Homo sapiens: one gene and its partner. The protein of the gene in region 2 purifies or fractionates together with the protein of the main gene of each other region. This does not show direct contact. Each region holds a gene or a part of one and is shown on either strand. Other genes may lie near its edges. The genes, in order: SRGN and PRF1.

Region 1 (3,811 bases), 1.5 Mb from region 2:
AAGCAAATTCTGAGATGGAAACTAGCAGAAAATTTCTAAGGGAGCACTCTCAGGATAGAAACCTATGAGCGGAATGGAAGGAAGTAAAATTGAGTAAAGAAGAAACTGAGCTACAAAGTAGTCCCAGCAAAACTGGAGCTGATCCTGTGGGGAGTTTTGAATCTGTATGACTATTCTGAGTTCAGGCCTTGATATGCCCACATCAGCCAGTCACTGGATGCAGGCTGCCCTGCAAAGCAGCATGACCTTGGGCAAGGTGGCTCTCTCCTGAGGAGATTAATTTGAGTAAGTACTCAGTTCTGGAGCTGGGATCTGGACAGTACAGAACAGAATCCAGGATGGTGATGTAAGGGGGCTTTTCAGAACTAAGGGGAACAGAGATGGAACTATCTTTCAGGTGAGGAAGTGCTTTGAGATATATAACCCTCTTGCTAAGGCATCATTGCTTTCTTCATTTGCTAGTTAGTATGATTTGATTCTGGTTACAAAACTTGTGTTTACTGTAGAATACGTTTAAAGTTGTTTTGTTGATAAGACTTCTGGAGAAACGTCTGGCCAAAAATAACTGTTTCCTGGGTTTAGAACAACAGATCCGAGACAGCTTAACCTTTGGTTATATTTCTGCTTTAATATATAGTAACATTTGAAAATACACAGATATCCAGGAAAAAAAGGTAAAGCAGTATGAGGTATTGACAGCACAACTGTGTTTTAATTTGGGAGTTAATTTGGGGTGTTATGTAACAGCAATCATACTTGTAGACAAACACATCCACTAGCTCTGCAAACACATTCAAAGGTAATAGTATATAGTACACTCCACCCTGTAAAATATGTCAAATACCCCCACTCTACAAATTCACTGTGTTTCATTATTTTTTTTTTTGTTTTTATAAGAAAAGGGGCATATCATTATAATTCACAATCCAAGTCAGAGTCTTAATTTAGGTATGAAATATTACCTGCCAATTTGCTTCTCAAGCTACTTTAAAAATATATATATATTCTTTAAAGCCATTTTATGGCCATGGGAATCTAATTAATTTCATAATGATGTTGGTTGAACATGATACCAAAAAATGCAGGTATTTTCAAGAACAATAAAATAGATAACAGCATTAAAGCATAATCCTTTAAGAATTCATGAGAAAAAAAAGGATGATAAAACTTAAGCTTCTTTTTCAGATGTTTAAAAATTTCTATAAAATTCTTTGTCCCAAGATTAATCATATAACCATGGTACATAAAATATGCTAACTACATTGCCTGGTGTCAAGGTGGGAAAATCCTCTTTTATAACATAAAATCCTCTTCTAATCCATGTTGACCCAAGTCCTGGCTGTCTGAGGGCAGATTCCTGTCAAGAGACCTAAGGTTGTCATGGAAAGCATCACTTTCGTCTACTAGTTGGTAATCCTGTTCCATTTCCGTTAGGAAGCCACTCCCAGATCCTGATCCAGAGCCGGAGCCGGAGCCGAAGCCTGATCCAGAGTAGTCCTCAGAAAGTGGGAAGATACGATTCAAGTCCTGGATTCTCGTCTTTCTGAAGTATGAAAGAAAAATGGGAAAAAAACCAGTGGAGTTTGATATGTGGGAAAGATAATTATAATAGTTTTTTTAATATAAGGAGATAAATACAGCCATCTAGTTGCTCAAATTAAGAGATTTAAAAGCTTCCCAATTATTCAATGTTTTAAAATCAACAAAAAAACAGGTCAAATGTTCCTATGTGTTTGCCTATACTTATTGCACCTATCAACTTCACATCTACCTATTGCAGACTTGCATAAACAGTGTTAATTTTGTTATCACTAGCATATACATTCTATATTTGAAATTTACTTAAGAAATCATTTTAATTTTTATTTTTGGAGGCAGAGTCTTGCTCTGTTGCCCAGGCTGGAGTGCAGTGGTGCCATCTCGGCTCACTGCAACCTCCACCTCCCAGGTTCAAGTGATTCTCCTGCCTCAGCCTCCCGAGTAGCTGGGACAACAGGGGTGCGCCACCATGCCTGGCTAATTTTTGTATTTTTAGTAGAGATGGAGTTTCACCATATTGGCCAGGCTGATCTCAAACTCCTGACCTTGTGAACCACCCACCTCCCAAAGTGCTGGGATTACAGGTGTGAGCCACTGCACCCGGCCCAAGAAATCATTTTTAAAAGAAGTCCTCTTGGCCGGGTGTGGTGGCTCATGTCTGTAATCCAAGCACTTTGGGAGGCCAAGGTGGGTGATCACTTGAGGTCAGGAGTTCGAAACCAGCCTGACCAACATAGTGAAACCCGGTCTCTACTTAAAATACAAAAATTAGCCAAGTGTGGTGGTGCATGCCTGTAATCCCAGCTACTCGGAAGGCTGAGGTGAGAGAATCGCTTGAACCCAGGAGGCGGAGGTTGCAGTGAGCCGAGATCGCGCCACTGCACTCCAGCCTGGGTTACAAGAGCAAAACTCCATACCCTCCACCAAAAAAAAGAAAGGACAAACAACTAACAACTAAGTCAGCCCAAACAGATGACATTTTTTCCTAAATTAAAATTTCCATAAAAGTTCTAACAATTTACAGGGCTTCAACAAAGCTCACTTTTGAGAAATTCTTTGTAAAAAGCTAAGCTTTATATTTACCAGCATATAAACATTCAATTTCCTATCAAAAAATGACCCTGCCTCCAACTTGCACTCATTCAGCTGAAGAGTGCTGAAAGGTAAGGCTGCCTTCTGGGTTGAGTGTGATGATTAGAAATTCAAAGAGCACAAAATGGCCAGAGCAATGACGACAGCCCTCGGTGACAGAACAGGGCAACAAAGCATCAGAGACAAAAGCTGAGTGTCACAGCCTACAAGTCATTTCCTCCATGAAAATAATAAACCACCAGCATACAACCAATTAGAGTTTTAATTCATGTACGCATTCAATAAATATTTGTTGAATATCTGGTCCTTGTTTTGAGGGCCTGGGATAGAACAGAGGCAGATCGATGAAGCCCCTTCTCAAGAAGTTTTTATTTTAGTGGGGAAGACAGACAATGAAAAGTGAATAAATAAATCAGGAAAATCATAGGTGGCACAGAGAAATGAAATTGACCAATGTAATAGGGAGTGACCAGGTGGCTACTTTAGCCTGGGGTGTCGGAGCTAGAATCACAGATTTGGTAGTTAAACCCATGCAACCGATGGAGGTCGTCGAGAGAAAGCATGTAGATAGAGAAGGGGGCCCAGGCCAGAGCCAGGGTCACACCAACATGTTAAATACTGAGCAGAGGAAAAAGCACAACCAGAGAAGTAGGAAGAAACAGGATAAGGCAGGGCATGGAAGCCTCAAGAAAAAAGCATTTCAAGGAAGGAGTGGTCAACCATTTTTTTTTTTACAGAAAGGGCCTCCTTCTGTTGTGCAGGCTGGAGTGCAGTGGCGTGATCATGGCTCACTGCAGCCTCACCCTCCCGGACTCAAGCCATCCTCCCACCTCAGCTTCCTTTGTAGCTGGGACCACAAGCATGAGTCACAACGCCCGGCTAATTTTTCTATTTTTTGTAGATAGGGTCTCACTATGTTGCCCAGGCAGGCTGGTCCTGAACTCCTGGGCTCAAGTGATCCTCCTGCCTTGGCCTCCCGAAGTGCTGGGATTACATGCATGGCCCAGTTAGCTGTTTTTGAAGGCAATTAAGGATCAAGTAAGCTGAAAATAGAGAAGTAATCAGTGACTTTGTCAACCAGGGTGGAGTGTAGGAACAGAAGTCCAGCCACAGAGGGGGTGAGGAAAGGAGGGGGCAGGCATGGGTGGCCCTTTCAGGAGGTGTTATTGTGAAGAGGAGC
Region 2 (4,587 bases):
GTGGCCCCCAGGTCTGATGAATCAGACCAGGTGACTTGGGTCTGGCCTACAAACACTGTGCCTTTCTCAGACGTGGAATATGGGTCCCATACTTCCTACTCCCAGGGGCTAGGGTAGTGACTGCTGTCGCTCAGCAGTGTGGCCCTGCCACAGGCAGGTGTGAGTATTGGTTGAGTGGATGATTGAAGCTCAGAGAGAAGTGAGATGCTCAAGGTCACACAGCGATGAGGAAGGATGACCCGGCCAGGTCTCCTGCCTCTGTCCCTATCCAGGAAGGACTCTGTGGAAGGCTGGCTGTGCCCAGGAAAGGCAGGGTTCAGTACTCACTAGACCTAAATGGCACCCTGCTGGGACTCTCAGGCATGGTCTCACTCACTTTCTCTCTACTTGATGTCTCACTGGGCACTCCCAGATTTGGGACCTCCTGGATGAGAGGAGGCCACAGGGCTGAATCACCTGAAGTCTGAGAGCCAGGATTGCAGTTTCTTCCTGGTGGAAGCAGCCTCCAAGTTTGATTGGAGGACTCTGCCTTTCCAGGGCTCCTAGACCACCCAGAGTTTCCCGCGCCTTTTCCAGCCCCCCACCCCTAGCCCCAGCTCTCACCTGTAGAAGCGGCACTCCACCGTGTCAGTGCTGAAGCTGTACTGGTCCTGGTGGGTCTTCTGGGCTGCAAAGTTGGCTGCCTGTGAGTGTGAGCCGGCCACAGACACATGCACATTGCTGGTGGGCTTAGGAGTCACGTCCAGCCCGACCTTCCAGTCGTTGCGGATGCTACGAGCCGCATCCCGGGCCACAGCTTCAGTGGAGCTGACTTTGGCCCTGGTTACATGGCGCTGGCAGCCAGAGCCCTGGGCCCGCCAGTTGGTGAGCGCCAGAGGCAGGCGCTGGAGGGTGCCCTCCTGTAGGGCATTTTCACAGAGGGTGCAGGTGCCGTCGGGCCGCAGGAACCTTTGTGTGTCCACTGGGAAGGAGCCCGAGCGGCGGAGGCTGGTCACGTCCACACCCTCCCCGGCCAGCCATGCACCAGGCACGAACTTGTGGCTGCGCTTGCACTCTGAGCGTGCGGCTGTGTGGCACGGGGCAGGGACGGGCAGGGGCAGCAGCAGGAGAAGGATGCCCAGGAGGAGCAGACGGGCTGCCATGGAGCTGCAGAGACAGGGGGCACTTGGGCTCTGGGAAGCCATGGGTGGAGGGATGGAGGATGACTGCTCCCTTCCCCCACAGCCACAGATTATCAGGGCACATGGAAGGGGAGGGGCTGAGATATCTCTTAAGTCATTATTCAATGAATGTCAGAGCTGGTATGTCCCTTATAGGCCTGGTTCAGCCCCCACATTGTACAGATGGGCCCAGAGAGGGGAAAAGCCCAGCCAAGGGGAGCCCCTTTTTAGAATTTCCCTAAGGCCTAATGGGGATCTAGGTGGATGGCTCTGTCCCCAGGACACAACTGTGGGTGGTGGGGAGGGGGCTGTGGCCACAGAAGAGGGGACAGAGTAGCTGTAGCAGGTTTAGGGAGGGGTCTGGGGACCTGAGGAAGCCTTCATTCTGAAGAAGTGTCATTTTTGGCCCCAGAACAAGCCACCCTTTGCCCACCCTGACTCTCACTCTGTTTCTTTGTCTCTGTCACTCTCTCTAACCTCTCTCCCTCCCACTGAGCCCTTAACAGAATTGGAAGAGAAATGAGGTCCTATATTGCACCTATTCTTCTCATTTTCCCTTTGGGGCTCTCCCTCTGAGCTTTATGGAATAACATCAGCCCGAATTCTAGAATAAAATCTGCCGACCTGGCCAGGTGTGGTGGCTCACACCTGTAAACCGAACACTGTGGGAGGCAGAGGCAGGTGGATCACTGGAGGTCAGAAGTTCGAGACCAGCCTGGCCAACGTGGTGAAACCCCCTCTTTACTAAAAATACAAAAATTAGCTGGGCATGGTGGCGGGTGCCTGTAATCCCAGCTACTTGGGAGGCTGAGACAGGAGAATCGCTTGAACCCAGGAGGCGGAGGTTGCAGTGAGCCAAGATCGTACCACTGCACTCCCGCCTGGGTGATAGAGTAAGACTCTGCCTCAAAAAAAAAAAAAAAAAGGGGCAGACCTGACCACACCCTTGGATTTTGTGTGGGGAGAGGCCTCGATGGTTGCTCTTCAGATCCTTTCTTGCTGCCCCTCCCCTCTTTGCCACTCCCTGCCAAGCTCTGTGGCCTTCGGCAGTGACAGGGGCCCCCCTATTGCCTACTATGGACAATGATTGTCTGGAAGGTTCTTCCTAATTTTAAGGTGTTTCTGGGGCCTTGCCTGGGCCTGTTTATGATCTGGAACCTCCTTTCTCTAACCTTACCCAAGCCTAACCTTATCCAAGCTGAGCTCTTCAAAGGCCTTTGCCCTTGGGTACCACAGGTTCTGAGACAAGAGGGCTATGGAGAGCCCCCATTATAGCTGGAGCCTCCTGCCCTGCCCAAAGGTGTGACTTGAAGGGTGGAATTTCAGGCAGCGTGGCTCGCCCCAGGGAGGCAAAGAGGCCAGGGGAATCTTCAAAGGCCCTGGGCTCATCCCAGCTAGGAGGCGGGCACAGTCATAACCCTAATCCAGTGAACTCAGCCCTCATCCTGACTCTCATGGTATTCTGTCCCAGGGAGCCTCTTTCCAGCTTTCTTAGAAGCTTTAATGTCAGCACTTGCAGGGCCTTAGAAACTGCACGCTACCTCTTCATTTCATACATGAGGAAACTGAGGCCCAGGGTGGACACAGGGCTGCCCAGCGAGTTAGTGATGGGCACCGTCTGTGACCCAGGTGTCTTGTCTTATAGGTCACAGCACTTCCTGCTCCATCAGCCTCTTCCCCTCCACCCAGGGCCCCAGGCCCCCCAATCCCTGCTCTCTCCTTACCTGGAATCCCGTATAGAGAAGCGGCTACACAGATGGATATCCTCTCTTCACCGAGGCTCCTGGAATGGTGGCATCAGCCCCCCAGGCAGCCCACTGTGGCTCCTTGCACCAGCCACCACTCACATCACTTCTACTTCCTGCCCCGCCCCCAGCTGTGGTCACAGGTCCTTTGTGCTCTCCCCTCCCACAAGCACCCACCCTGTCCTCAGCCCTCATCCGGCTCCCCACTGACAGCCCTCAGGAAGCGAGCAGCAGGGCCAGAGGCTCATCTGCCGAGTAGAGCTGCTGGGGCTCGGGGACTCAGGGCACACAGGCGGAGGAGGGCGGGGCGCTGAGGACTTTGAGACTCGGCCCTGGTGTTGATGAACAGGCCAGCAGGGCCATCTCCTTGCTTCTGATGCACAGCATCGCATGTGTGGGATGTAAGAGGCAAGCAGAGGCGGCGGCTCAGAGCATGGGCCTACACGCCAGACCGCCGGGGCTTGGGCAGCTCGGTTATGCACCAGCAGTGTGGACTGGTAGGGTTCTTCAGCCTCACTGTGCCTCAGTTTCTTCACTGAACAATTGGGATTGTAGGTCATGTAGACCCTAGGGGTTGTTGTGAAGTGCTTGGAACTGTGCCTGGCCCTTCTTGAGTGTCAGAGCCTGTGGCCATTCCCTCCTCCCTGAGTGGGAGAAGAGAGATGTTGCTCTAATCTTGCCATCCACTTCCTGCTCAACCTACATCCCACCCTAGCCCAGGCTCCGAACTCCAAGCATGTTCCTCGAACAGGGGCTCCTGCTCCTCGCTTTGTGAGGACAGCCAGTGGCCTCCACGCTGGCTCCAGCCCTGCTGAGGTCGTGGGTGCTGGTGAGAGTGGTCTGGTAGCACCGGAGGACATGTCTTCTGCACTCTGCCTTGCTTGAGGTCAGGGTGGGGTGAGGTTTCCATGGGTGGAGTGACTCACAGGGCACTGGGGGGCAAAATCACACGGCTTCTGGGGTGGGGGCAGCTGGGTAAGGGAGGAGGTGGTTCTCACAACTTGTTCTCATAACTGTGTATATGATGGGAAGAAGTGGCCGCAGGCTCCAGACCACATGTGACATCATGTCTCATGGGTCACACTTTGGGGCTCATCCCTTGCGTTTATGTCCCTGCTTCCGTCCCTGCTCTTACAGGAACAGGGGCTTATGCTGTCTTCTCGGAATCTGGCCCCATCTTCTCTCCGCAGTGTCCCCACCCTCTTCTAGAAACTGCAGCCTCCTGATCACTTTCCAGCTGTCACCCATGGCCTGACTTGGATGCTGAGGCTGTGAGGAGTTTCTTTCCTGACCATGACAGGAAGGCCGGTTTGAGGGACATAGAAGTCCTGCAAAGTATCTGCGGGAAAAGAGAGGCAAAGTCTAAACAGGTTCTGATCCCAGCTTCACCAGAAACTTACCGTATGCCTCACGGCGATAGATATCAACCCCCTTTCTGAGCGTTAGTTTCCTCACCTATAAAATCAAAGAGAGGACTTTGGAATTCTACACATCCTTCCAGCTAATGATAAAATGTACACTTGGCAGGTTTCAAGTGGCTTATGAAGTGGCTAATGCCCAAGAGATGCTAGTGGTTGTTAGGGGATCCATTAAAGAGCCGAAATGACATTGAGGGTGATGACTGTTTTTGACTCGTTTAACTGATGACAGCTGTCCTTCTGAAACTTGACACTTGAATGTGC

The links.
Region 1: the proteins of PRF1 (region 2) and SRGN purify together in Homo sapiens (co-immunoprecipitation; one study listed by IntAct). This does not show direct contact.

The regions. Positions count from the first base shown.
Region 1 is NC_000010.11:69,101,603-69,105,413, reverse strand, and holds the end of SRGN (serglycin isoform 1 precursor), read right to left. Parts: intron 1,544-3,811; coding exon 1,294-1,543; 3' UTR 609-1,293; downstream 1-608. UniProt on the Homo sapiens protein: Plays a role in formation of mast cell secretory granules and mediates storage of various compounds in secretory vesicles. Required for storage of some proteases in both connective tissue and mucosal mast cells and for storage of granzyme B in T-lymphocytes.
Region 2 is NC_000010.11:70,599,761-70,604,347, forward strand, and holds the start of PRF1 (perforin-1 precursor), read right to left. Parts: upstream 2,982-4,587; 5' UTR 2,885-2,981; intron 1,173-2,884; 5' UTR 1,143-1,172; coding exon 604-1,142; intron 1-603.